Homo sapiens: one gene and its partners. The protein of the gene in region 6 purifies or fractionates together with the protein of the main gene of each other region. This does not show direct contact. Each region holds a gene or a part of one and is shown on either strand. Other genes may lie near its edges.

The links.
Region 1: the proteins of LYPD6 (region 6) and DNM3 purify together in Homo sapiens (affinity purification with mass spectrometry; 3 studies listed by BioGRID and IntAct, with this or other methods). This does not show direct contact.
Region 2: the proteins of LYPD6 (region 6) and TMX1 purify together in Homo sapiens (affinity purification with mass spectrometry; 3 studies listed by BioGRID and IntAct, with this or other methods). This does not show direct contact.
Region 3: the proteins of LYPD6 (region 6) and TMEM245 purify together in Homo sapiens (affinity purification with mass spectrometry; 3 studies listed by BioGRID and IntAct, with this or other methods). This does not show direct contact.
Region 4: the proteins of LYPD6 (region 6) and TMEM214 purify together in Homo sapiens (affinity purification with mass spectrometry; 3 studies listed by BioGRID and IntAct, with this or other methods). This does not show direct contact.
Region 5: the proteins of LYPD6 (region 6) and PLXNB2 purify together in Homo sapiens (affinity purification with mass spectrometry; 3 studies listed by BioGRID and IntAct, with this or other methods). This does not show direct contact.
Region 7: the proteins of LYPD6 (region 6) and SLC12A4 purify together in Homo sapiens (affinity purification with mass spectrometry; 3 studies listed by BioGRID and IntAct, with this or other methods). This does not show direct contact.

The regions. Positions count from the first base shown.
Region 1 is NC_000001.11:171,844,498-171,847,997, reverse strand, and holds part of DNM3 (dynamin-3), read right to left. Parts: intron 1-3,500. UniProt on the Homo sapiens protein: Microtubule-associated force-producing protein involved in producing microtubule bundles and able to bind and hydrolyze GTP. Most probably involved in vesicular trafficking processes, in particular endocytosis.
Region 2 is NC_000014.9:51,246,747-51,250,246, reverse strand, and holds part of TMX1 (thioredoxin-related transmembrane protein 1 precursor), read right to left. Parts: intron 3,156-3,500; coding exon 3,027-3,155; intron 922-3,026; coding exon 876-921; intron 780-875; coding exon 678-779; intron 555-677; coding exon 482-554; intron 1-481. UniProt on the Homo sapiens protein: Thiredoxin domain-containing protein that participates in various redox reactions through the reversible oxidation of its active center dithiol to a disulfide and catalyze dithiol-disulfide exchange reactions.
Region 3 is NC_000009.12:109,088,948-109,092,447, forward strand, and holds part of TMEM245 (transmembrane protein 245), read right to left. Parts: intron 2,209-3,500; coding exon 1,975-2,208; intron 1-1,974.
Region 4 is NC_000002.12:27,035,965-27,039,079, forward strand, and holds part of TMEM214 (transmembrane protein 214), read left to right. Parts: intron 1-5; coding exon 6-88; intron 89-522; coding exon 523-628; intron 629-740; coding exon 741-822; intron 823-1,112; coding exon 1,113-1,214; intron 1,215-1,596; coding exon 1,597-1,738; intron 1,739-1,825; coding exon of another isoform or gene 1,826-1,837; exon of another isoform or gene 1,838-1,850; coding exon of another isoform or gene 1,851-1,928; intron 1,929-2,067; coding exon of another isoform or gene 2,068-2,181; coding exon 2,182-2,273; intron 2,274-2,519; coding exon 2,520-2,568; intron 2,569-2,737; coding exon 2,738-2,851; intron 2,852-3,082; coding exon 3,083-3,115. UniProt on the Homo sapiens protein: Critical mediator, in cooperation with CASP4, of endoplasmic reticulum-stress induced apoptosis. Required or the activation of CASP4 following endoplasmic reticulum stress.
Region 5 is NC_000022.11:50,297,647-50,301,146, reverse strand, and holds part of PLXNB2 (plexin-B2 isoform 3 precursor), read left to right. Parts: intron 1-635; exon of another isoform or gene 636-649; intron 650-811; exon of another isoform or gene 812-1,021; intron 1,022-3,500.
Region 6 is NC_000002.12:149,435,087-149,438,586, reverse strand, and holds part of LYPD6 (ly6/PLAUR domain-containing protein 6 precursor), read right to left. Parts: intron 950-3,500; 5' UTR 879-949; coding exon 761-878; intron 1-760.
Region 7 is NC_000016.10:67,948,138-67,951,637, forward strand, and holds part of SLC12A4 (solute carrier family 12 member 4), read right to left. Parts: intron 3,168-3,500; coding exon 3,003-3,167; intron 2,924-3,002; coding exon 2,825-2,923; intron 2,575-2,824; coding exon 2,517-2,574; intron 2,357-2,516; coding exon 2,182-2,356; intron 1,782-2,181; coding exon 1,663-1,781; intron 23-1,662; coding exon 1-22. UniProt on the Homo sapiens protein: Mediates electroneutral potassium-chloride cotransport when activated by cell swelling. May contribute to cell volume homeostasis in single cells. May be involved in the regulation of basolateral Cl(-) exit in NaCl absorbing epithelia.

The DNA of each region.
Region 1 (3,500 bases), on a different chromosome or scaffold from region 6:
ATAATAATGTCATCAAATGCCAGTCTTGCTACTATTAAAGGAAGAAAAGCTAAGCTACCTATGATCACACACACACACACACACACACACACACACACACAGAGAGAGAGAGAGAGAGTAATTAATATGGTATTAATGAACCCTCTAATTTGTTGGAAATGATTTTTAATTCATGAAATGCAAATCATTTAGTGTCAACTCCTTTACCCTCCTCCCATTCTAAACAATTCATTCCATTTTCAGGTTTGCCTTTAGGACATTTTCCCTGACATTTGTGTCTTTGACTTATTCTACTCCTTTAACTAAATGACTTATTCTTTAAAAGGAAAATAGAATTCACCTCCCTTAAGTATTAGTGCCTTGGAAGTCCTTATAAAATACTTGATCTGATCCATCCCACTCTCAATTAACCTTCACTGCATCCAGTTATATTTTTAATCTCTCCAATCTCTTTTTTTTTCCTTGCTGCTCTTCTCTAGGGCCCTCTCCAATATACAGTATCTCTTTGTGATAAAGTCACAGTCTAAATTCAATGCCTTGTTGTCAACTCAGAAACTGAGACACAGATCACCACCTTCCTGCTTTGACATAGATACTTCAGTACATGCAGGCTTGAGCTAAAATGATATGGGCTGCCAGATGACACTGGAAATGCATATATTGTCTACTTTCCACTTATATTCAGTTCAATTTCAGAACTGTAGTTTTTCAGGGATTTTTGTAAAAATAAATTGACATACTATAATTTTTTATCCTGATTAGTTTGCATTATATCTGACTACCTTCATTTTACATGTGCATTTGAAAGTTGTCTCATACTTTATCCTGTCAGTTCTCTTTTTATACATACATAAGCTTCTATGTATTCATATTTTCTTGTATATTCTTACCCAGTAAACTTAGAACTCAATAAATACATGTTCATTGGTTTTATGTGTCCATATTTCTCAAGAGTTCCAGGAGGAGTCATACTGAATCCCAGCTTGGCTGCTTGCTAGCTATACGATCCTGGGTGAATGACTTGTCTCTCCAACCCTGAATTTTCTCCCCTATTGACATGGGGATATGGAAACAGGTAAGGAATAGAAGGTATGAAAAGTATCTAGCAGAATCCATGTCTGCTACCCCATAATGGCTAAGCAAATGTTGGCCCCTTTTTTCCGTCTACTTTATAAAATGTATTTAGTATGACATAATCCATAAGAATTTTTAAATCAATGCAGAGAGTGTGAGAAACTGCAATGCAAACTTGGACTAGGATAAATTGCAAAACTTTGGCCATGCAGAAAATTAAATTGGATCATTCTATATAGCATATGAGCTTGGGACTCTCTTGACTTGGCTCTGGTAGCAGAGGAAAAAAATAATCTATTTCTTTCTAGATACTTGAAGTCCCTCTAAAATAAATGACAATAATAAATAAAACTTCATAATTTAACTTACTAGCCATAGCAAAAGGTACTACCTAAGAAGAATACCTAACACTCTAAATGTATACTCCATTGATAGAGAACCCAATAGCCTACCCTCTAATCCAGCTAAACATTAAGTTTCCATTCCTCCAAGGTTCTGGGTGACTGCCCAACTTCATTCTTAAAGAAGTTAAATCAAGTGCATTTTTGGATAACTGTTAATCATAAGTAAATTCCAAAACAGAGATATCCTATCCAGTCTAGTTATCTTAGTTATATTGCTCTCAGACATTACTAATAAAAAAGGAATTCATTTGATGGTAGTAATTAAGTACCACCAACTGTGAATTTGTGATAACCTAAAAGTATATTATATAATGTTAATTCAGCAAAAATATTTTTGTGATTTCAAGTTCTACCAATTCATTGTTGCATGAAGAAAAGTTCATGTTTTGACACTTTATTTATAGACCTTGGGAACTATGAAGTATGGTTCTCAATAATTATGACATTTTAATTGTAAGCACCATTTATCTAATAACTATAATACTTAGAAGCAATTTCTTGAAAAATATCAGCATAATCACTTTTTAAAAATATTTTATTTCGTCCCCATTAATCAAAAAACTTTTTCTATTTGTGCAGAATTGAGAGTCTATTTACCACTCAGACTAGAATAAAATAATGTGGACTCTTCTGCCTATATAATTAGCATTGAAAAACTAATATTTCTAACAAGCGTGTCATTTTAAAACATCTGCGTATTAGCAACTAGTACAGTTTTCACTTAACACCTCTATAAATGAGTTATATGCACTCTAAAAACATACTTAAATAAACAATCCAATTACATTTTAAAACTCTCTTCAAGAATGTCTAATATAGCAAAGAAAAATACTTATCTTTTAATAAATGTTGCTTCTGCCTAAGGGGTCACCTCAAATCTTCTGTGAAATGAGGCAAGGTAAACATATGTAAATAAATATTAATAAAATCATTAACATAGTAGCTTCTTGTTTATTATTATTATTTGAGACAGAGTCTTGCTCTATCAGCCATGCCGGAGTGCAGTGGCACAATCATGGCTCACTTACAGCTTTGACCTCCTGGACTCAAGTGATCCTCCTACCTCAGCCTCCCAAGTAGTTGGCACTACAGGCATGCTCCACCATACCTGGCTAATTATTTTTTGGTTTTTCTGTAGAGACAAGATCTCACTACGTTGCCCAGACTGGTCTCAAACTCCTGGGCTCAAGCAATCCTCCCGCCTTGGCCTCCCCAAATACTGGGGTTATAAGCATGAGTACTGTGCCTGGCCAGCTTCTTATTAATATAGGTAACATTTATATAGGGAGCAAGACAGAAGTTAAAAGTATTTATCAGAGGAAATGGTAAACCTCAACATGGAGGATGCAATATGGCACAGAGGTTCTAGAGCATGGGTTATGGTCATCAACACCTCTAGTTGAATCTTAGCTCCACTGTTTTTATATTAAATTAAATTATCCTTGAGTGAGTTACTCAAACTCTCTAAATCTTGATTTCCTCTTCTGTAAAATGGAAATCATAAGAGTACCTACCTCTTTGGGGTTGTATGAGGACTAAATGAGATTATTCATATAAAAGCACCCAGAATAGTACCTACACATAACAGGCACTCTATAAATGTTAACCATTATTATCATCACCACTGCACTATAAATATATGTATACGTATAATGAAAATAGTTGAATAAATTCAATTCTTCTGTATACAAATCAGACCAGTAGGCAGACCCAAGCCAGCTAGTAAACCCCTATGTTCAGATTATAGGTCTCAAATTCTATTCATTAGATCTTAAGCTGCCTCTCATTGCCAGCATATATCTCATCCTGCACCACCAAAAGAACAATCTGGTTACTCATGCTATATCACATTAATATGCAAGTTCATCACTTCAGCAAGAAAATCACAAACAAGTGGTTCATTCATGACTCATTTTATTCATAACAATCTCAAACCTGTCACCCAAAAATCAGCTTTTACAGCAACCGCTAAATGAAGTAAACATATTCACATCCGAATTCATTCATTGGTGTCCAAAAAAA
Region 2 (3,500 bases), on a different chromosome or scaffold from region 6:
ATGCTTGTAATTATTTAAATTGTTCTGTAGTACAGTTCAGTGTCAGTGGCATCCTAAATCAACTATAGGGATTGCTTTTCCCAATATCCTACCAGAAAAAACTTACAGTTGGCTGGCATTCAAAGAATAATCTTCAAATGTGGCGGCCGGTATACTAATGAAAGACTTCAAGAGTAGAATATACTCCACTTATAAAACGACACCAAATAAATATTATTAAATAGCTACATGCTATATGCAATGTTAAAATTCCCCATAATATAAGAGTCAAGAAAATAACAATGTTCCAAAATCCACTGGGCTACATTCTTATATGAAATATACATCTCCTCTACCTTCCTTTATGCCATAGCTGATAAAGACCAACAATCCACAGTTAGAATTCTAAGCTGGAAGAGCAACCTGTGAAATGTGTGATTGTGATTACAGAAATGAATAGGACTATCGTGAATAAAAAATAAACATTTTAAAATATACTTACTTGAAGGGTATGGGTACGGCTGTGGTCTGCGCCTTTTTGAAGGACAAAGGCAATCTGCCACAAATATCATACACTGTAAAAATAAACATTGTAAGAAATCTGAATGTAGAATATATGCCACAGCTAATGTAACTATTTTAAATAATCACATTTTTAAATATCTTTCTTCCTAGCACTCCAAAAATGAAATACTTACGAGTCCTAATAACAGTCCGGAAAACAGAGTTGCTAAAGCAAAAACAGTATATGATCCCCACACTGGCAATCCAAGGTCTTCAATAAAGTAGTTATGGCAAGTCTAAAATCAAAAGAAAAAAAAAAACTAAAAATCTGTTCATTTTTGTTAAAGTGATAGTGGTAAAAATGTTTAAGATAAAAATATTTTAGTCCATACCCTGATCCACATAGATAGCTGAAAGAGTGCTGACATACTACTCATCCTAAAAATAAAAGAGATGATTAAAAAACTGAGTAACATACACAGATTTGTCTATACATACTATTTTCTACTCTATAATTTCCCCAATATGACAGATTTTATTGCTGTTAATCAAGACTAGTGACACATCACTGATTTCATGCCTGTAATAAGCCTTCTTCATGAAAACTGTTTCTAAATTGACACTACCATGTGACAGCCTCATAAATAAAAATACTTGACAGTATTTTTTTCCTTTTCTCCCACTGTTTTGATGTTAATATTTTGTATTTCATCTGATGATTTCTCCAATACACTGAGTAAAGGGTTACAAGTTCCATGAAACCAGTTGGAAAAGGCAACTCTTACTCACCCTTAAAAGCCTTCAAAGCAAGACCAAAGGGAGGCTAAAGTAAGGACTGGAAACAATTGTCAAGCCAATTCTTTCCATTTAAGAACTATCCCTCTTTTTTATTGAAATTAATTAAAATTTACAAGAGCATTAGTTTGACATCTTTTAATGATATACAAAATTATTACATAGGAAATAAATGCTAAGTCATCATATAAGCAAAAATTAGTATTTTACATAATTAAATGGCCAGTTTTAAAAAGGCATGTTTCAGAAATAAGAAAGGTCTGTGAGTTCCCAATTGTAGCTGCTTGAAAATAGACTTACAAGCAACTACTTTCTTCTACTGGAAGGACAAGATTCATTTATGAGATGAGATTTCAGAGAACAAAAATCAGTTATACTTTTAGTTCGACACAGAAAGGTATTTTAATCATGTTGCTTCTGTTGTTTAAAAGCCAAGTGAGAAGAGAAACAAGGAACTGAAACATAAAGCACTGTATAGCCTCACTGTAGTCTGCAGTAATTTATTTCAGAAACAGTAGGATCCAAAATTGAGTTGGGCATGGTAGTTCAATGGGTGAGTGTTAACAGGGCTAATCTTTCTCCCATCCCCAGAATCTAGAGCATTTTTCTCTTATGTGATTACTGTCCCAACTCCCTATCCTCCAAAGGTAAGTGTGGTGAGAGGACAGGAAGAGACAGATGGCCACACAGGATCAGTCCATGGTGACCTCAGCAAAACTCACTGTTCCCAGAGGTCTCTCACATGACCAGTGAGGCCTTGTACTCCAACAGCAAAGCAGAAAGCATGCTTGCTACTTCCAATCCTTATCACTCCATAGCCAGTTGCTACGAGGAAATTCATCTACCCTCTAGATATCTATAAAGCTCAGTGCTTAGGCACACTATTACGGTCACCGTTTATACACACTATTCATATAAGAAGTTATCAGACAGGTGGAATAACCAACCAAACATAATTCAGTCGCTTGACATCAAGAGTTGAAGTTTATGTAATTAATTTAGTTGGTATCGGCAATTATTGACGGTCTCTATGGAGACAGAACATTAAAAGACAAATTGAAGTCTGGAGGTAGCATGAGTACAAGTTTGAGCCTACTCATTCAAATTATTACACTCGAGTGATAGCTTTACCCATTACACTGTGAAGACTCTTAGGGGCATTTAGTTTTTGATGATACATATGACCAAATCTAGCAAGCTAAAATATTCCTGAAAAGGTGTACAACTTACTTCTATAAAATGCCTTCTCTAACTCAAGAAGCATGAAAATATGTTTGACTTAGAAGGTCAAACTAAAAAGATCAAACATGTAGGCCGTGCATAGTGGCTCACACCTGTAATCCCAGCACTCTGGGAGGCCGAGGTGGGCAAATCACGAGGTCAGGAGATCAAGACCATCCTGGCTAACACAGTGAAACCCCGTCTCTACTAAAAATACAAAAAAATTAGCCACGTGTGGCGGTGGGCACCTGTAGTCCCAGCTACTCGGGAGGCTGAGGCAGGAGAATGGCGTGAACCCAGGAGGCAGAGCTTGCAGTGAGCCGAGATTGCGCCACTGCACTCCAGCCTGGGCGACAGAGCAAGACTCCATCTCAAAAAAAAAAAAAAAAAAAAAATCAAACATGTAATAAATGTGGATATACCTTAACAGCTCAAGAAACAAACTGAGTATGAATGCTTTACATAAAATATAATTATCTGTTCCAATTAATTATGAAATGGGTAAGAGAAAAAGCCCTCATACTTACAGAACAGAACCTGGACCAAACCATGATGAAACGGGCTCAATACTCTTCCACTCTTTATCACTTATAAAGTTTATGAAGTCCTTCTTAGTCCTTGGACCCTGATAGCGCCTAAATTCACCATCTTTACAACTAAAGAGAATCAGAATTAAATATTATCCAGCACTGAGAAATAATTTAATATTTATTTTGCTATTTTTTCACTTCACTTTACAGTCAATTCTAACATTCAAAAGCATTAGCAATGTACAAGTATTAATAGCAAATTATACTATTTACCTACTCATGACATTTTAGCCCCCAATTTAACAATGAGGTTACATTTTTTTAAATCATAAGCCTTAAAATGTAATTACTGTTATTCTTCCAAGTAATGAAACTATGAAATACAGTAAGTAGATAAATCTCAGGAAAGTACTTTTAAGCCTTATGTGTAATACACATATTAAAAGAATTATATAAAAATTATTAGAATAG
Region 3 (3,500 bases), on a different chromosome or scaffold from region 6:
CTGCCTAACAGAAGTTCTGTTTGAGGACAGAAGAACCACATATAGGCCGGGGACGGTGACTCACACCTGTATAGTCCCAGCACTTTGGGAAGCCAAGGTGTGAGGTTTGCTTGAGTCCAGGAGTTTGAGACCAGCCTGGGCAACATGGCAAACTACAAAAAATACAAAACAATAGCCAGTGGACGCACCTGTAGTCTCAGCTATCTGAGGGGCTGAGGCAGGAGGATCACTTGAGCCTGAGAGATCGAGGCTGTGGTGAATGGGTGACAAAGTGAGACCTTGTCTCAAAAAAAAAAAAAATACAGATACAAACTTCAACCATTTATATTGCATGCTCCCTGAGGACAGGCACTACTATACCATGCTCTGGTCATAATAAATGTTAAAAAATAATGCCTATTTAATTAACTATCCAATTGAGTGAGGAAAAATAAAAAGAAGTGATGAAAACTAATGGTCTAGAAGGTAAATGGGCTAATAAGTTTAGACTTTTAGACTACAGTGGAGAGCAGCTTCCAAAAATCAGATTACGTTTTAATCAATAGTGAAAAACCTTGACATAGGAAATGAGGAGTAATCAAATGTAGAAGGTACTCAGAAGGCAAAATCCACAGCAGCCACTAAGGACTTAATAAATTTGGCACAAAATATGGCTGCCATAAGAAGAGAGCCCAAATAATCAGGAAAATATTAGGTAAAAGATGTTTCTACAATGCACCTGTCAGAGAAAACTCTCCCTTGCTCTTTCTAGTCTTAGGAGAAAGACAGTTTTAGAGAGAATCAAAACAATAGAGGTGGGCCTTAAATTACCACAGCATTAAGATACAAAGACCTGATTTAATGGATTATGGAAAACTATGATTCCATTTTGATGTAATACATATAATATAGATATACATGTAATTTAATTTTTCTGCCAAATCACAAGACTTTGCATACATGTATTTCTCAAAGCCTACATTTCCTTTGAATTAAAAAGGCAAGGTAAAACGTGCTTCCCTAAGAGTAGCGCTCAAAAATCATTCAATCTCAGCTAGGCGCAGTGGCTCACTCCTGTAATGCCAGCACTTTGGGAGGCGGAGGTGAGCGGATGACTTAAGGTAAGGATTCGAGACCAGCCTGGCCAACATGGTGAAACTCCGTCTCTACTAAAAATACAAAAAATTAGCCAGGGGTGGTGGCGCATGCCTGTAGTCCCAGCAACTCAGGAGGCTGAGGTGGGAGAATTGCTTGAACCCAGGGGGCAAAGGCTGCAGTGAGCTGAGATCGCGCCACTGCAATCCAGCCTGGGTGACAGAGCGAGACTCCGTCTCAAAAAAAAAACAAAAAATCATTCGATCTTCAAATTCCAAAACACAGATATTGTTAACATTCTCCTTCACAGAATCATGGATGGCTAAACAATCAAATCTCTCTATGGAGCTATTAATCTCAAATACTACATGAAATTGTAAGAAGCTAAACACATTTTTTGAGCTTAAAAGTGAAATACTGGCCGGGCGCGGTGGCTCACACCTATAATCCCAGCACTTTGGGAGGCCGAGATGGGCAGATCACGAGGTCAGGAGATCGAGACTATCCTGGCTAACATGGTGAAACGCTGTCTCTACTAAAAATAAAAAAAAAATTAGCCGGGTGTGGTGGTGGGCACCTATAGTCCCAGCTACTCGGGAGGCTGAGGCAGGAGAATGGCATGAACCTGGGAGGTGGAGCTTGCAGTGAGCTGAGATGGTGCCACTGCACTTCCAGCCTGGGCAAGACTCCGTCTCAAAAAAAAAAAAAAAGTGAAATATTAAAGATGTATCAAAGTAATAAATTAACCAAATGGTGTTTGTTTACTATTTAAATGCAAACATAAGATTGTTTTACTTTGCAAGACGGTAAATGTATCTCAAATATTAAAATCCAAAAGTAAAAAAAGAAAAAAATCAATCTTCAAAGACAAGACGAGATCGTACTTAACCAGATAACGACCTGCAATCGGCACTGGCAGCAACTGCACAATCCACAGGTTCAACCAGATCTGCATGACGACAATGGCCCAAACTAGAGACACAAAGTAGATGTCACTAGTTTTCTTCTTTCTAAGAAACGTTCCTATTTCAGGCCTTCGTCTGCCCAGAGTAGGTGAAGGGGAAGTGGGTGAAGGGGAGGAGGGTGAAGGGGAGGTGGACAACGTTGGAGCGGATTCTCCCCTGTCCACTGCTTCTGAAAAGGAAAAGAAAAACACCACACACCGCATTAGTCCACATGAGGAAATGGGAATACAGAGCCACTCATTAGGCTAGCCTGTTTCAGGCCTTCAAAATGTGCTGATATGGTATGATTACATCGGGTTAAAAAAGACAAAAATATTTGGACCTATGTTTGCATATGCACTGAAAAACATGGAGAATTACAATGCCAATAGAGCTTTAATTTAGGAAGACTAAGTTAGTTGGTGATAGAATTGGGAGTCATTAAAACAAAATACATGACAAAGTAGCTGAGAATTATAATTATCCCATAAAACTTATTCAAACTATTTAAAGAAACAAATGCTAACATATACTAGAATTTCTATATTTAAAAATCCCTTTTCTTTCAATAGAACTTTAGATTAGGTGTATTTATATACATTTCTGACACAAGAAGACTTTTCAGTGTTATTTCACCTAAAATGGAACCAACCAATCTTACAAGAACCCAGGGCTTTCAAACAGAATATATAAACATGAATGAGATACAAAAACAATGACAGATTTCTTGGGTGAGGATTTTCAAATAAAGGAAACCATACTGGATTATTTCACATAAGACACTGTTTTCTAACAATGCAACCACCATGTTACATTTTACTATAGGGTGCTATTATTTCTATTTCCTAGTTTTAATAAGATATACCATACACATCAGAAATCATAAAACTCTTAAAGTAGTATTACTCTATATATACTATAATAATGAAAATTATTAAGATCCTAAAACTTGCATTTTGCCTTCCATTAGAAAAAAATGTTAATTACAAAAGTATGTCACGTTGAATGTGTGGATTGTTAATTACAAAAGTATCATACGTCAGAAAAAAAGTCTAGAAAAAAGAGAAAAGAAATAAGAACTCCCATAATCCCAACCTCACATTTTCCCCCTGGTCTTTTACATAGTTGTAGCATGTTCTACTTATCCTTTCTCATTCTTTCTCTTCAGTTGAAAGTCAGCTCCACCAGAGCTAAGACCTTGTCTGTTTTGTTCTCCCTCCACTGAATTCCTGGCACATACAATAGTATCTCATATATAGGAGGTGCTCACTAAATAAGTGAATGAATGACTTCCCTGTTGTTTCATAATTTTCATAAGCAATCATACAGTAGCCCACCAAGTGCTGTATCATAATTTCCTTAAGTGTTTTTAATGTTAAAAGTTCAGCTATGAGTCAATTTTTACTACTGAGATCACTTGCACCCTGGTAAGTCAGCTCACCTCACTAGGACCAACATTCTACCCTTAAAAGTGCAGGGCTA
Region 4 (3,115 bases), about 120 Mb from region 6:
TCCAGGGGAGTCACTACATGGTTACCGCATCTGTATCCAGGCCATCCTGCAAGACAAGCCCAAGATTGCCACGGCAAACCTAGGCAAGGTGAGCTCTCAGTGATGGTGGGGATGCTAGGAAGCTAGGACTGGGGAGGCTGGGCAGAATCTATGTTGTTGGACTCAGGTTTGGGATAGTGGAAGACCTGTAAGCCTAGTAATAATGGGTAACACTATTAGCACCTATCCTGTGTGTGTGCTCTGGAAACATAGGAGCAAGGTACTGCTATTATTTCCCATTTTTATAGATGAAAAGATTGAGCCACAGAGGAGTTCAGTAACTTTCCTAGGCTCAGTCATCCAGTAAATGGCAGAGTATGGGCGAAGCCCACAAACAGAACCTGCACCACGTGGCCATAGTGCTCCACTCTTGCTCGGCCTGTCCTCCCTCTTCCAGTTGACATCTCCCTTCCCTCCTGGCTTTGGGGGGTGCTCCTGGTGTTTTGTCCTATCCCAATCTGCCTTCCCCACCGGTCTCCTCAGTTCCTGGAACTGCTGAGGTCCCACCAGAGCCGACCAGCAAAGTGTCTCACCATCATGTGGGCCCTGGGTCAAGCAGGTTTTGCCAACCTCACCGAGGGACTGAAAGGTAACAGGGAAATAGGGAAGAAAGAGGGAGGGTCTCGGAGCTGGAAAACTCCTCTTTGATGCCCCCAGTAGGTGCAAGCCTGAGGCCTCCCTCGTGACTTTTACCCCTGCAGTGTGGCTGGGGATCATGCTGCCTGTGCTGGGCATCAAGTCTCTGTCTCCCTTTGCCATCACATACCTGGATCGGCTGCTCCTGTGAGTAATGGGAGGGCAGCAAGGGGAAGGCTCAGGGTGTCCCAAGTGGCTGTTATAGCAAAATGGGAGGCTATGATCTTGGTCTCCATGGATATGAGGAAAATCAGGACCAGCTTCTCCCACCACCTTAGAATGTGATGGTGAGGAAGGAAGAAGAGGGAGCTATTAAGGGCTGGCAGATGGGGTAGAGTTTATACCCTTTTTCCTAGATGTTGGCTTAGCTGGGGTCATGGCCAAAACAGCTGGCATGGGTGGTGGTGTCCAGCGAGCCTGTTTCTTCATCCCCACAGGATGCATCCCAACCTTACCAAGGGCTTCGGCATGATTGGCCCCAAGGACTTCTTCCCACTTCTGGACTTTGCCTATATGCCGAACAACTCCCTGACACCCAGGTAGGACTGCTCTGGGGCACACCTGCTGAGAAGGGACCACAGCACCAGAACCACACTACATATTCCCGTCTCTCCTTCCCCAGCCATCCTAGATCTGAGATTTGCAACCTGGAAGTTCAAGAGTAGGTTTCAAGGGAACAGTGACCCCTTGAAATTATATGGACCCTTGAGTGTGATTGGCATATGGGCATTTTCTTAGGGATAGGGTCCATGGCTTTCAACAGATTTCCAAGGAGTCTCTGAGTAAAAAGATTCAGAGCCATTGCAAGGTCCTCAGTGGCTATTCCCCACAGGCAGGCATGGGCTCTGAAGCAAGCAAAAGGTTCATATCATACAGCTCCACTTATAGCTTATGCCTGTCTTTCCTCCCCACCCCACCCAGCCTGCAGGAGCAGCTGTGTCAGCTCTACCCCCGACTGAAAGTGCTGGCATTTGGAGCAAAGCCGGATTCCACCCTGCATACCTACTTCCCTTCTTTCCTGTCCAGAGCCACCCCTAGCTGTCCCCCTGAGATGAAGAAAGAGGTGAGGATATGGTGGGAGGCTTTTTCTCCTTCCCCAGGGGTCAGCTGTAGCGGTCCCTATCTGCTGACAAAGGCCTTGCCTTCACAGAGCCCATTCTGAGGCTTTTCCTTAGCTCCCTGTTGACAGCTGCCTGCCCCGCTCACTCGAGCTTCACCCTCAGAAGATGGATCCCAAGAGACAGCACATTCAGGTCTGGGTGGTTTCTGATGCCCGTCTCTTGCAGATAGTGATCTTTGAGCTCAAAGCTCTAGCTCAGGAGCCCCAGCCTCCTGCTTTACAGCCTCTCAGAGAGCTTTCTGGAGTCTTGACACTGTTTCTCCACCCCTTAGGGTGGATGTGCGGCCTGGATGGCCTTGCTTACGGGAAGGGGATCACCTCTTAGCACTCCCCGCCTCTGCCAGCCCCATGCCCCCAGCAGCCTCTCCCTCTGTCGTGCTGTGCAGCTCCTGAGCAGCCTGACTGAGTGCCTGACGGTGGACCCCCTCAGTGCCAGCGTCTGGAGGCAGCTGTACCCTAAGCACCTGTCACAGTCCAGGCAGGTGGGGTGGGAGGCCAGCCTGTCCCTGTGCTAGAAGCAGAAGGGGAGCCTGGGTCACTGTCCCATGGCCTGACACCTTTCAGGCTGAGTGGGAACATTGCTGGAGCAGCCTCTAGGAAGCTGCTGCTCTGTGGGTGGTAGGTGGAGGGTCTTTCAGCCTGAAGGAGCCAGGGCTAATGGAGGACAGGAGGATGGGTGAGGCTGCGCGAGCCACCTGACTAGGGGGTTGTGCTTTCCCCACAGCCTTCTGCTGGAGCACTTGCTCAGCTCCTGGGAGCAGATTCCCAAGAAGGTGAGGAGCTGGGAGGACGTGGCAGGTTGAGCCCTGTCTGGATTCTAGGTTCTGAGTGGGGGCTCCTCAGCCACTGTCCCTTCCCTGAGAAGGGACCCTGTTGGCATGGAAAATGAAGCAGGATGGAAGCTCTGGATTCCCTCACAGGCCAGACCTTTCTTGTCCATAGGTACAGAAGTCTTTGCAAGAAACCATTCAGTCCCTCAAGCTTACCAACCAGGAGCTGCTGAGGAAGGGTAGCAGTAACAACCAGGATGTCGTCACCTGTGACATGGCCTGCAAGGTGCTGGCACCCGGTCCTCTCCAGCCCACACGCTATCTTACATCTCTGTCTCAGCACACCTGGGTTGGGCCTGTATCACATTCCTGCCCCACCTGTCTGGAGCCCCCCGCTGCCTCCAGGATAATGTGAAGGCTTGACGCTCTTTCGGGAAGGCCTGGCTTGAGGTCTGCCCTCAGAGGCAAAGACCAGCCCCTCGCTTCTGACAACTGTCTCCTGCTCCCCTCCCACCAGGGCCTGTTGCAGCAGGTTCAGGGTCCTCGGCTG
Region 5 (3,500 bases), on a different chromosome or scaffold from region 6:
GGGGAGGACCATCCTCCAGATGCGCCAGTGGGCCGTGGCCAGAGAGGAGGCTGAGGAGGGCCTCACAACTGTGTGTAGGATGGGAGGGCAGCCTGGGGCCCCAGTCTAGGGACGCACCATATACAGGGGCTGCACTTGGTGCAGAGGCGGAGAGGGGGCTGGGGCAGGCCCCTTGGGCATGGCCAGGTGAGCTCAGGGGGTGCCTGAGGGCCAGGGCTAGATACAGAGGCCCTGGGTACCAGGTGGCCTGGGTGTGTCAGGAGGTGTGGACCAGTGGGGGCTGTGACTAACTCGGCTGGAGCAAGTGACAGGAGGAGCTGGGGCTTCATGGGGCACCCCCAGGATCCTGGGCTGGTGACCCCATCACTGCCACCAGCCAGGGTGACTTTTCCTGCTGGGACCCAGAGCCCAGACTGCAGGGGAGGCTGGCCCTAAGTAGGAACCCCACCCTGAAACCAGGCTGGCGGGGAAGGGGTGCGACGGCCTCCACCTGGGAGGGGTCCTCAGCCGAGAGTCCAGCGGGGACCGCTGTAGACGCTGAAGCGAGGCTCAGGCCTCCACATCAGTCTGTCCCTGGAGCCCCGCCCCGCCCCGCCCCGCCCCAGCTCCTAGGTCGGGTTGTGCCGGGAGCGTTCGGCCTTTGCCTCGGGTGAGTCTGGCCTTGACCCTGGGTCCGGAGTCCTGCGGGAGGCTGCTCCGGGCAGGGTCGTGCATGATTGGCAGCTGGGCCGGGAGGGGCCGAGCCCTGAGACCGACCGGGGGCACGGGCGGAGCCACCATCGGCGGGGCGGAGCTGCTCCCCGCGCCCCTTCCACGGCTCGGAGGACTTAGGTAATGGCCGGCTGTGCGATCCGATGTGCCCGACGCCAGGTGAGCGCCCCGCGGGGACGACGTCTCCTGCGCTCGTGTGACTGTCGCCGCCGCCGTCATTGTTACTCGGGTCAGACTCCCACCCGCCCGCGCGTCCTGGGCCCCCGGCCTGGTGAGGTTTGTCCCAGAGGCGGCCACGTGCTCCCTCCAGGTGCGCGAGGCCGAGGGGCGGACGGGGCGCCGGAGTCCCCGGGAGGGCGCGGGCGGTGGCCGTGGAGCTTGGGCTCGCGGGGGGCAGTGGGCGGCGCCGAGGAGGCGCGGGCCTAGTCCCTGCGCTTCCTGGCCCCGGGCGCGCTTTGCCCCTGGCTCCCGGGCAACCGTTCTGCGCCCTCCGGGGAGTCTGGCGGTGCCGGCGCCGGGGGAGGGGCTGTGCCACCTGGGTCGGCCTGCGAGGAATAGTCCAGGGCGCTCCACACAGGCCGGGTGCCCGCCTTTGGCTCTGGCCGGGTACCGGGCTCGCAGACCCACCCAGGAGACACCGCCCCCCGCCTCCCGGGCTGAACTCTGACCCGGGTCACCGGTGGGTGGGGCTGGGTGGCGGGGCCGCCGGTCTCGCCCTCGCCGGGTCTCCCGCGCGCTCTCCACCCAGTCCCTCCCCGCGCCTACCCACGGGCGCGGCGCTGCGGGAAGGGGCGGCCGGGGTCCTTGCCGACCCCCCAGCCCCACGCCCCGCGGCACCCCCCTCGCGCTTGTTTTGAAAACAGCGGAGGCTGGGATTCGCCGGCGCGTCTGTTTTGTTTCCTCTGATGTGTTTAGCGCTCTGGGATAATTGCAGATTTGCGTGTGTCGCTAGCTTTGGCCCGGCCCCCTGGCTGCTGGCTGCGGGGCCTCCGGGGCCTCCGTGGCTTTTCTGTGACGCCTGTCGCCCCGTTCCGGGACAGCCACTCTCAGACGCGCCTTGGCCTGTGCTTGGGGCAGCCTATCGCTCACTTGGTCCGAGGCTGCTTCCCCCGCCCCCGCACCGGGCCCCCCCCCCACCCCACGCAGGGCCTGTGTCCACCCCAATCCTTTGAGCCCTGGAGGGCCGCACAGCCCTAGGACCTCTGCCTTCTCCACCGCCCATGTCCTAGGTGCTCATGCCACCCCCTCCTGCCCTCCCAGGCCTAGGCCCGAGCTCTCCTCGTTCTTCATGGCGGCTGCTGCCTGGATCCCCATCTTGGCCCCTGCCGGGCCGCTGCCCATGCACCTCCTCTGGCCCCTGCCCTCTCTGGTTCCCGTGCCAGAGCCCACAGCCTGGCCTGGCCAAGAGCAGCCCCCAAGCTGGGCCTGCCCTCCCACTGGGCCTGACTGCTTTGTGCTGGTTTGATTTTAGCATTAAGAATGGTCAGTCTGGCTGGGTGTGGTGGCTCACGCCTGTAATTCCAGCACTTTGGGAGGCCAAGGCGGGTGGATTGCCTGAGCTCAGGAGTTCGAAACCGGTCTGGGCAACACGGTGAAGCCCCATCTCTACTGAAATACAGAAAATTAGCTGGGCATAGTGGCGTGCACCTGTAGTCCCAGCTACTGGAGAGGCTGAGGCAGGATAATTGCTTCAACCTGGGAGGCAGGGGTTGCAGTGAGCCAAGATCATGCCCCTACACTCCAGCCTGGGTGACAGAGTGAGACCTGTCTCAGAAAAAAGAAAAGAATGGCCCAGTCTGTTTGCTTGAAAATACTGAAAGGCAGAGAACTCCCAATTTTAGTCCCCACTGGAACCACCCCGCAGTGCAGCCAAGACTTGGGGCGGTCTCAGAACCAAGGCTGGCAGGAGTTTGGGGGCCTGGCAGCCCCCACTCTTGGCCTCATCTGGAGTAGGGCTCTGTCCTTCCCCCTTACATGCCTCTTGTTTACCTTTACCCAGTGGGAGGGGCGGGGGCCAGACTCAGCCCGTGCAAGGGGCCTGGGGGCTGCTGGTCAGAAAAAAAAAACAAAAGGGACCTCAGGAGAGGGCCACAGGTGCCCAGCCAGCAAGCAGCTCCTGCTGCCTCCCAGGCTGTCTAGGTTGTAGAGGGGAGGCCCAGCATCCCTGTGCTGCCCTTGGCCTACATCGGAGTTCTGGTTGGGGGAGGAGACCCTTCTGCTCTGTTGGCCTGGGGGTGACCTGCGGGGACAGGTCTTCTGGGCTCGCGCCCCTGCATGTCACCACCCCTTCCCGGCTCACTGAGTTTGGACCGGCAGGTGCCCAGTGACCAGATCCAGTGTTTGGACTTGTTGGGGCAGGGCGGCGGGGCAGCCGGGGCCTGTCGGGGAAGACCATAGACCACAGAGCAAGGCCAGTCCCTCAGGGGCTGGGTTAGGGAGGGTGTCTCGGGGTCTAAAGGATGGGCAGGGGCTTTCCAGGGAGCACAGTGAACATGGACGTGGGAATGTCGTGAGGCAGCGTTCTCTGAGTGGGCACAGCTGTAAAGATTTCCACACCCACTCAACCTCAAGGCAGCCCTCTGAGGTGGGCGCCATAATGACCCCCAGGTTACATATGGGGAAACTGAGGCACAGAGCAGCTTTCTGAATGGCCCACATGAGCCAGCTAGAACGTGACAGAGCTGGGGTGTGAACTCACTGGTCTGGCTCTGGACTTCAGGCCTCGAGGTCCCTGGGTGCAGCAGCGTCAGGTGTGACCACAGCCACCTAAGGAAGAAACTCCTTTTTCT
Region 6 (3,500 bases):
TAATGCACCTTGGGGCAAAAGCCGAAGGTCAGAATATACACAATACAACCAGCTCTCACCTCAACAGGGGCAATACAGAAGAGGATTCATACAAAGAGACAATAAATACAAAGATAGAGACCAAAAGAGGAAGTCAAACTGCTGTGTTTCCTAAAGCGTGATCCTTAGAATGTCTGCAGCAGAAGTACTTGAAGTTCTTGCTGAATGCAAAAATGCACAGGTACAGCCTGAGATACATGCAAATCAGAAACTCTAGGGCAGGGATCTGGGCATCTATGTTATTAAGCATTCCCTAGATAATTCTTAAATATAGGAAACCAAAAGGAGGCACAGGACATTGGAAGTTGTGGGAGGAAATTACACTGAAATTGAGAATTAGATGCACAGAGAGGAAGACCAGCTATTATCTTACGTATAAAGGATTGATCTTTTACAAACAATCCTCCTTCTGGGATATGGTGGTTCACTTTAAAAGCTGACTTAGGACTGGCATGAGTACAAGGGGAAGAGTGTTCAGAATCAGAGTGATTGTGTAGGGAACAGAGAAAACAAGCCCAATAATTTGCCTTAACACCACCAAAAATCTTCTTGTGAAAAGGTGAGGGTAAAGCATAAAACATCTTTTGTAAATTACCGCACCACCCCAGTTAAATCACGGGAGGTTTTCACTATACTGAAGGATGCCTTTTCCTGGCCAGTTTTTGAACCACTTCTTATTTGAAATAAAGTGATATTTCTGCAGCAAAGAGAACAGTCTTACTTGAAGGATGGAGGTAGATAATGTCTTTCACTGTGAAGTCTCGGGACTGAGCAGCTTTCAGACAATCCGCCAGCAGGCTCAGGAGCAGGAGCCAGGCCAGAGCAGGGCCAGGTTCCATGGCAGACTGAAGTGTCACTCATACAGAGGGCCTGGGAGTGGGCACTCAGGGCAACAGGAGAGAACTTGCACCTGAAAAATGAAGAAAGAATCATCTCAGTGATCGACTGGAGAAAGCCACAGGAGGCTTGGCTGAGCTCCCATGCTGGTAAGATGGGATGGAGAGCAACAGGGCACAAGGAAGTGGGTAGACATGGAGAGAAACTTTATCAACAGTAATTTTAGAGCACTGAGAACATTCCAGCCCAGATCTAGTCTTAATCAGGTTGCTAAGGCTCCACTGGTAGCCATCCCCTCTCATATCCAGCAGAGATGGTATCAAGAGAGACTGAATTTTAACAAAATCCAGCTATTTTTTGCTAGGAGGCCAGGGGATGGCTGCCAGAGTACGATAAAGAAGTCAGGAGCAAAAGCTCAGAAGCATTTCCCTGAGAATGGTGCAGGTCAGATAGGGAGTTCAGCCATACTGGGCCACGGGTGTCCATGCAAACCTGTACAGGGCAGACTTTCAGATTTAGGAAAACAAACAAATACAGGAAAGCTGACCTCTCCAAAATTAAAAAGTGCCTCCGTAACACAAAATCTCCTTAATGTAACTAATATTTGTTGGCCAGGTACTACTGAAGTCCTTTATGTATATCCATTTATTCTCCCAGCAACCGTATGAGGTAGGCATAATTATTAACCCATTTTGGGTAAACTGGGGTTCAGCAAATAAGTAGCAGATCTGACTCTAACCCAGGCAATGTGGCTTTGGAGTCTGCACAGTTAAACACTAGGCAATTCTTTGTTCTTAAGACTGACTTAAGGTGTATTTAAAAAACGGATTGGATGGGCGTAGTGGCTCATGCCTGTAATCCCAGCACTTTGGGAGGCCAAGGCCTGGATCGCCTGAGGTTGGGAGATCGAGACCAGCCTGGCCAATACAGTGAAACCCTGTCTCTACTAAAAACACAAAAAATTAGTTGGGTGTGGTGGCAGGCACCTGTAATCTCAGCTACTCTCGGGAGGGTGAGGCAGGAGAATCGCTTAAACCTGGGAGGCAGAGGTTGCAGTGAGCTGACTTTGTGCCATTGCACTCCAGCCTGGGCAACAAGAGTGAAACTCCATCTCAGAAAAAAAAAACCAAACTGATAAGATTGTGTTATCGCTATAGCACTAAGTGATTACTATCTACTGTGTCCTTTATTCTGATTGTCCTTTTCACTCAAAATTAAGGAAAAGACAAATCTGTAATAAGCCTGAATTGCTCTGCTTACTGGGAATGCAGAGATCTGTCTTAATTTTTATATAGGTGCTATTCTCTTGCTATCTTCTTGGTTTCCTATAAAGCTTATTCCTCATGTTCTACTACTTTTCCAAGTACCATTATCTCTATTGCTCTGCAAGGAGTCAAGGTTACTCATTTTATTTTAACCTAGCTGAAAACAAACAGTTTTGATATTTTGTTTAATATAAATGTTCAACAAGATTTTTTAAATAGCATAATTACTTTGTAAAAATACATAGGCAAGGAAATATATTATGAAACAGAAACTCAGTACAGAAAATCAATACGACCCAATCAGATCTAGAATATACTACAAAGCAAAATTAATCAAAACACAATGATAGAAGGTATAAAAATGAACTTACAAAGTAGAACACTCTAAGGAGCCCAACAGACCCAATTGTTTATAGGGTGCAAGCAATTGTTCAAAATTACAGAATGGGACCACATTAAGTGAATAGTATTATAACTTTTTAAAATATTTTTTTAAATAGCTGAAACCATAAAATGCATAACATGCTAAATTACTTCCAGATGTGATTATTCTTTTTTAATTGGCAAATTGTTAGACAACAGAGTAGAGCTCTCTTATCACTTGTAACAGCTTGATAATGCCAACCTTGCTAATTTCATGCTCACTACGCCATCTTCTGTTTACAATTTAATTCCCCAAGCAAACCTGGCATTCAGGAAGAGAATGGGCCACTCAATCACTTAATAAATGTGACTGCCAGGCACTGTGCTGGGCACTTGGTTGAACAACATGATGAAAAAACAAGTATCCACCAGTATCTTTCCCTTGCAAGTCAGCAGCCAAGTGACAGAGACAAACATCACTTCATCTTGAATGAATTCAACAGTGCTTCTTTCCACATCCATCTGGCTTTTCTCTGCCAGCATGGTGAGGTTGGTAAGGTGAGGCTGCACCTCTGGGACAGGTCTGCACAGCATCCCATGGATACCTGGCAGCACTATGGCCAATACCCCCATCTCCTCCCAATCTGTACGTAGCAGGGCTCAGTTTGAGAGTCAGAGATCAAAATGGAATGAACATTATGTGTGTAACTGTAAACATAAATGTGAACAAATGCACAGACAAAAGACTGGAGAGGAAAATACAAAATTAAGATAGTAAATCCATGGTGTATGAGTTAGCCCAGGCTGCCGTAACAAAATACCATAGACTGGGGGGCTTATACAACAGAGATTTCTCACAGTTCTGGAAGCTAGGAAGTCCAAGATCAAGGTGTCGGCAAGGCTGCTGTCTCCTGAGGCCTCTCTTCTTGGCTTGCTGATGGCTTTGCCCTACATGCATAGTCCTGGTGTCACTTCCTCTACTCATAAGAACCCAGT
Region 7 (3,500 bases), on a different chromosome or scaffold from region 6:
CAGGTAGCACATCAGAAAGAACCTGCGGCACAGAGGGCGGTTGGCGAAGAGCAGCCTCCTCGGCAGCTGGGGACCTGATGTCAGGCTGGGCCTGGCCCAGAAACGGGGCGTGGCCCGGCCCTGCCCTGCATGGCTCAGCAAGGTCTTCTCAACCTCATTGCTGCCACCTCCATGGCCTGAGGCAATGAGACTACTGTGGAGGAGTCCTCGGAGCCAGATCGCAGAGGATGGGCAAGGGTTTGCTGTTGGAGGAGGTAGGAAGGGGAGTAACAGGGCAGAGCTGAAGAGGGTGGTGCAGGGGCAGCAGGAAGAGCTCAGTGCCTGGAGACTCTAGGCCACATTCAGGCCTCTGGCCTGAGTGACCAGCTGGATGAGAGGCTGCCATGCATGAAGGGGAGGATGGAAGATAAGCTGGACCATTTGAATGCAACCAGTCAGAGATACTTAAGAGTCACTGCGGTGGGCGTGGGAGTCCCACGCATGGGCAGGGCCAGCTGCATGAGCCCTCCAGGAAGGCACCCGAGGACGGGTGCGCAGGAAGGCAGGAGGACCCACACAGGGCATGCCAGGGGGCAGGGGCTCCCAGCAGGAGGCCCGAGATAAAGGCTGAGATGTAGCCTCTGATTTGGGCACAAGGGGGGTCACCACCCAAGATGGCTGTGGCAAAACAGTTTCAGGTGTGCTCTTGGGTGAGAGGAAGGGGTGTGGGGGGGTGGACAAGAGGGTGCTGGCTCCAGCAGGCCTGGCTGTAGCTGGGATGGAGCCTGCTCAGGGGTACAGGGCCCCTGTCAAGTCTGCAGGCTGAGTGGGCAGGGAAGAGGAGGCCTTTCATAACCGCACAAGCAAGAAGGAGCGTCAGCCACGGAGCAGGGTGGGCGAGGACCCCAGCCTGGACAGAGTCAACCAAACAAGCGCTGCCTCGGGGTCCCTGGGAGTCACCACATGCTGGCCACTCCCTGCAAGGCACTGGCACGCAGATTTGCCTGGCTGATTCCAGAATGTTAAAAGCAAATGACTTTGAAAATGGATGGGTTGGGCATGGTGGCTCACGCCTGTAATCCCAGCACTTTGGGAGGCCGAGCCAGGTGGATCATCTGACGTCAGGAGTTCGACACCAGCCTGGCCAAGATGGTAAAACGCCATCTCTACTAAAAATACAAAAAATTAGCTGGGCGTGGTGGTGCATTTCTGTAATCCCAGCTACTCAGGAGGCTGAGGCAGGAGAATTGCTTGAACCCAGGAGGCGGAGATTGCAGTGAGCCAAGATCATGCCATTGCACTCCAGCCTGGGTGAGAGAGTGAGACTCTGTCTCAAAAAAAAAAAACAAAAACCAAAAAACAAACTAACAGATGGAAGGGGCAGCAGTGGCTTCATGGAGGCATGAGGGACGCGGTGGTTGCCCTGTCCAGTGGGAAGGTCTGCCGGCCACCTGCTCTGGGGGCCTCAGGGAGGTGTGGACATATTGGTCACCTTATAGCTTTGGCATAGGTGCCAGGCTTGCTCCTAAATGCAGGGGTGGGCTGAGCCCTGTCAGGCCACATCTCCCCATGCAGCCTGCCACATCTCCCAGCTGGACCTCCAACACCAGACGCAGCCACGGGGAGGTGCTGGGGTTCAGGAAGCCTTTCCCCATCCCCCTGCCCTGCCCGGCCCCAGCTCACATGGATAAGATGGGGGCCACCATGTCGAGGGAGGCGATGAGGATGCCCAGCTCGGCGATGAGTGCCGTCAGGAGGAGTGCCCATGTGGGTTCACCATTCACCTTCCCGTGGCCAAACACCTGTGTGCACCAGGAAGGAAGCTGGGTCCTGTCACCCCCATTCCACACCTTGGGCCCCAGACCCCAGCCTGGCCTCCCTCACCCCCAGGGCCCGCCTTGGGGGCTCAGGCCGCCCCTGTGTCTATCCCTATGGGTGTCACCAGTCTCCCTGATTCCACCTCACCAGGCCTCTCTCCTTTGGATGAGCCCTAAACAGGCCATGAAGATTCTGGGTCCAGGCAGCTCCAGGCCCAGGTGAGTGCCAGGCCCAGGGCACTTCTCAGTAGCTCCTCATGGATGGCCGCCTGGCCCCGGGGGCCAATAAGGGCAGGACGTGCTGCATCTGTGTTCCCTATCTCTCTCCCCAGCCGGGCGAGGGCCTGGGAGCAGCCAGGCCATGGGGGAGTGCAGAGGGGCTCACCCGGAGGAAGGGGATGATGTTGTCCTTGGCAATGGCCTGCAATAGGCGTGGTGCCCCTGTGAGGCTCTGGAGGCCAGCGCCACACGTTGAAAAGAAGGAGCCGATGACGATGACCCAGGGTGAAGGCCAGGCCAGTGTGCCCACCACCAAGTTCCTGCTGACACCATCGCCATACCTGCAGGGGCCACCAGAGTGAGGGATGTCAGGGGTCCGGAAGGATGGCACAGACCACCAAAGGCAGCCAGCAGGCTTAGGACCACCCACGGGGTTGGGAGCTGGTGTGAGGGCAGGCCAAAGCCCAGCCGCTGCTAAAGAGGGGGGCCCAGCTCACTCACTTGTCCCGGAGAACCACACCCTCAATGCAGGCACCAAAGAGAACCACACTGCTGAAGTCTGCGGCGGCGTCAAGGAAAACTCGGCCTCTGCCACCCCACTGTCCCTGAATAGTACCACGTGCCCCCACCCCAGCCAGACTACCAGGACACCTACAGCTGGGAGTCTCGTGGTGTGTATGTGCATGTGTGCATGAGAAGGGGAGCTATATATGAGTGTGTGGGGTGTCTGTGCATGTGACCTGGCAACGTACACAGGCCAAGCGCTTCCCGTCCTCTGCCCCACCTGCCCCAGGCCTGGGAAAGGATACACACGAGGGAAGTTGTAATGATGGCCAGAATGGTCCCCACAGGGATAGACTTCTGGGCGTCACGAAGGTCCCCAGAGCGGTTTGAGCCAGCCATGATGCCTCCAAAAACAGATGAGACTCCCTCAGGGGCTCCCCGGGATTGGGGACAGGGCTGGGTGGGTAGGCAGGCAGGGCTCACCTGTTACAGAAGGGAAGAAGATGCCGACCAGCACGGTGAAGGATGTGGCGATGTCAGCGACCACGTACAGAGGCAGGCTCTCCTTCAGGCTCGGGGCATCTGCGGAGGGCAGCCCATGCTTCTCCACGATGTCACCCTTCTCCAGGTAGGCGCTCCACAGGTTTTCTGCAGGGGTAGCTGTGTCACCACCACAGCTGCCCCCCACTACCCCAGGTAGTTTGGGGCAGCCTAGCCAGAGGCGCAGATGCAGGGCAACTTTGGGGACTCAGGGAACAGCTTCAGCCCAATGACTGCAGCGTCAGCCACAGGGCTACCCTGACCACAGAGAAGGAGCTGCCCAGCTAGAAGTCGACAGACAAAGGTGGCTGAACCACCGTCACCCAGAGCCCGCCACTGCCCGCCTTCCACAGAGGCCTTTATGGATCCTGTGGGAACATCCCCAGGCAGTGTCAGGGGCTGGTGGCTGGGGAAGACAGGCTGCTGCAGGCCTTGGACGCT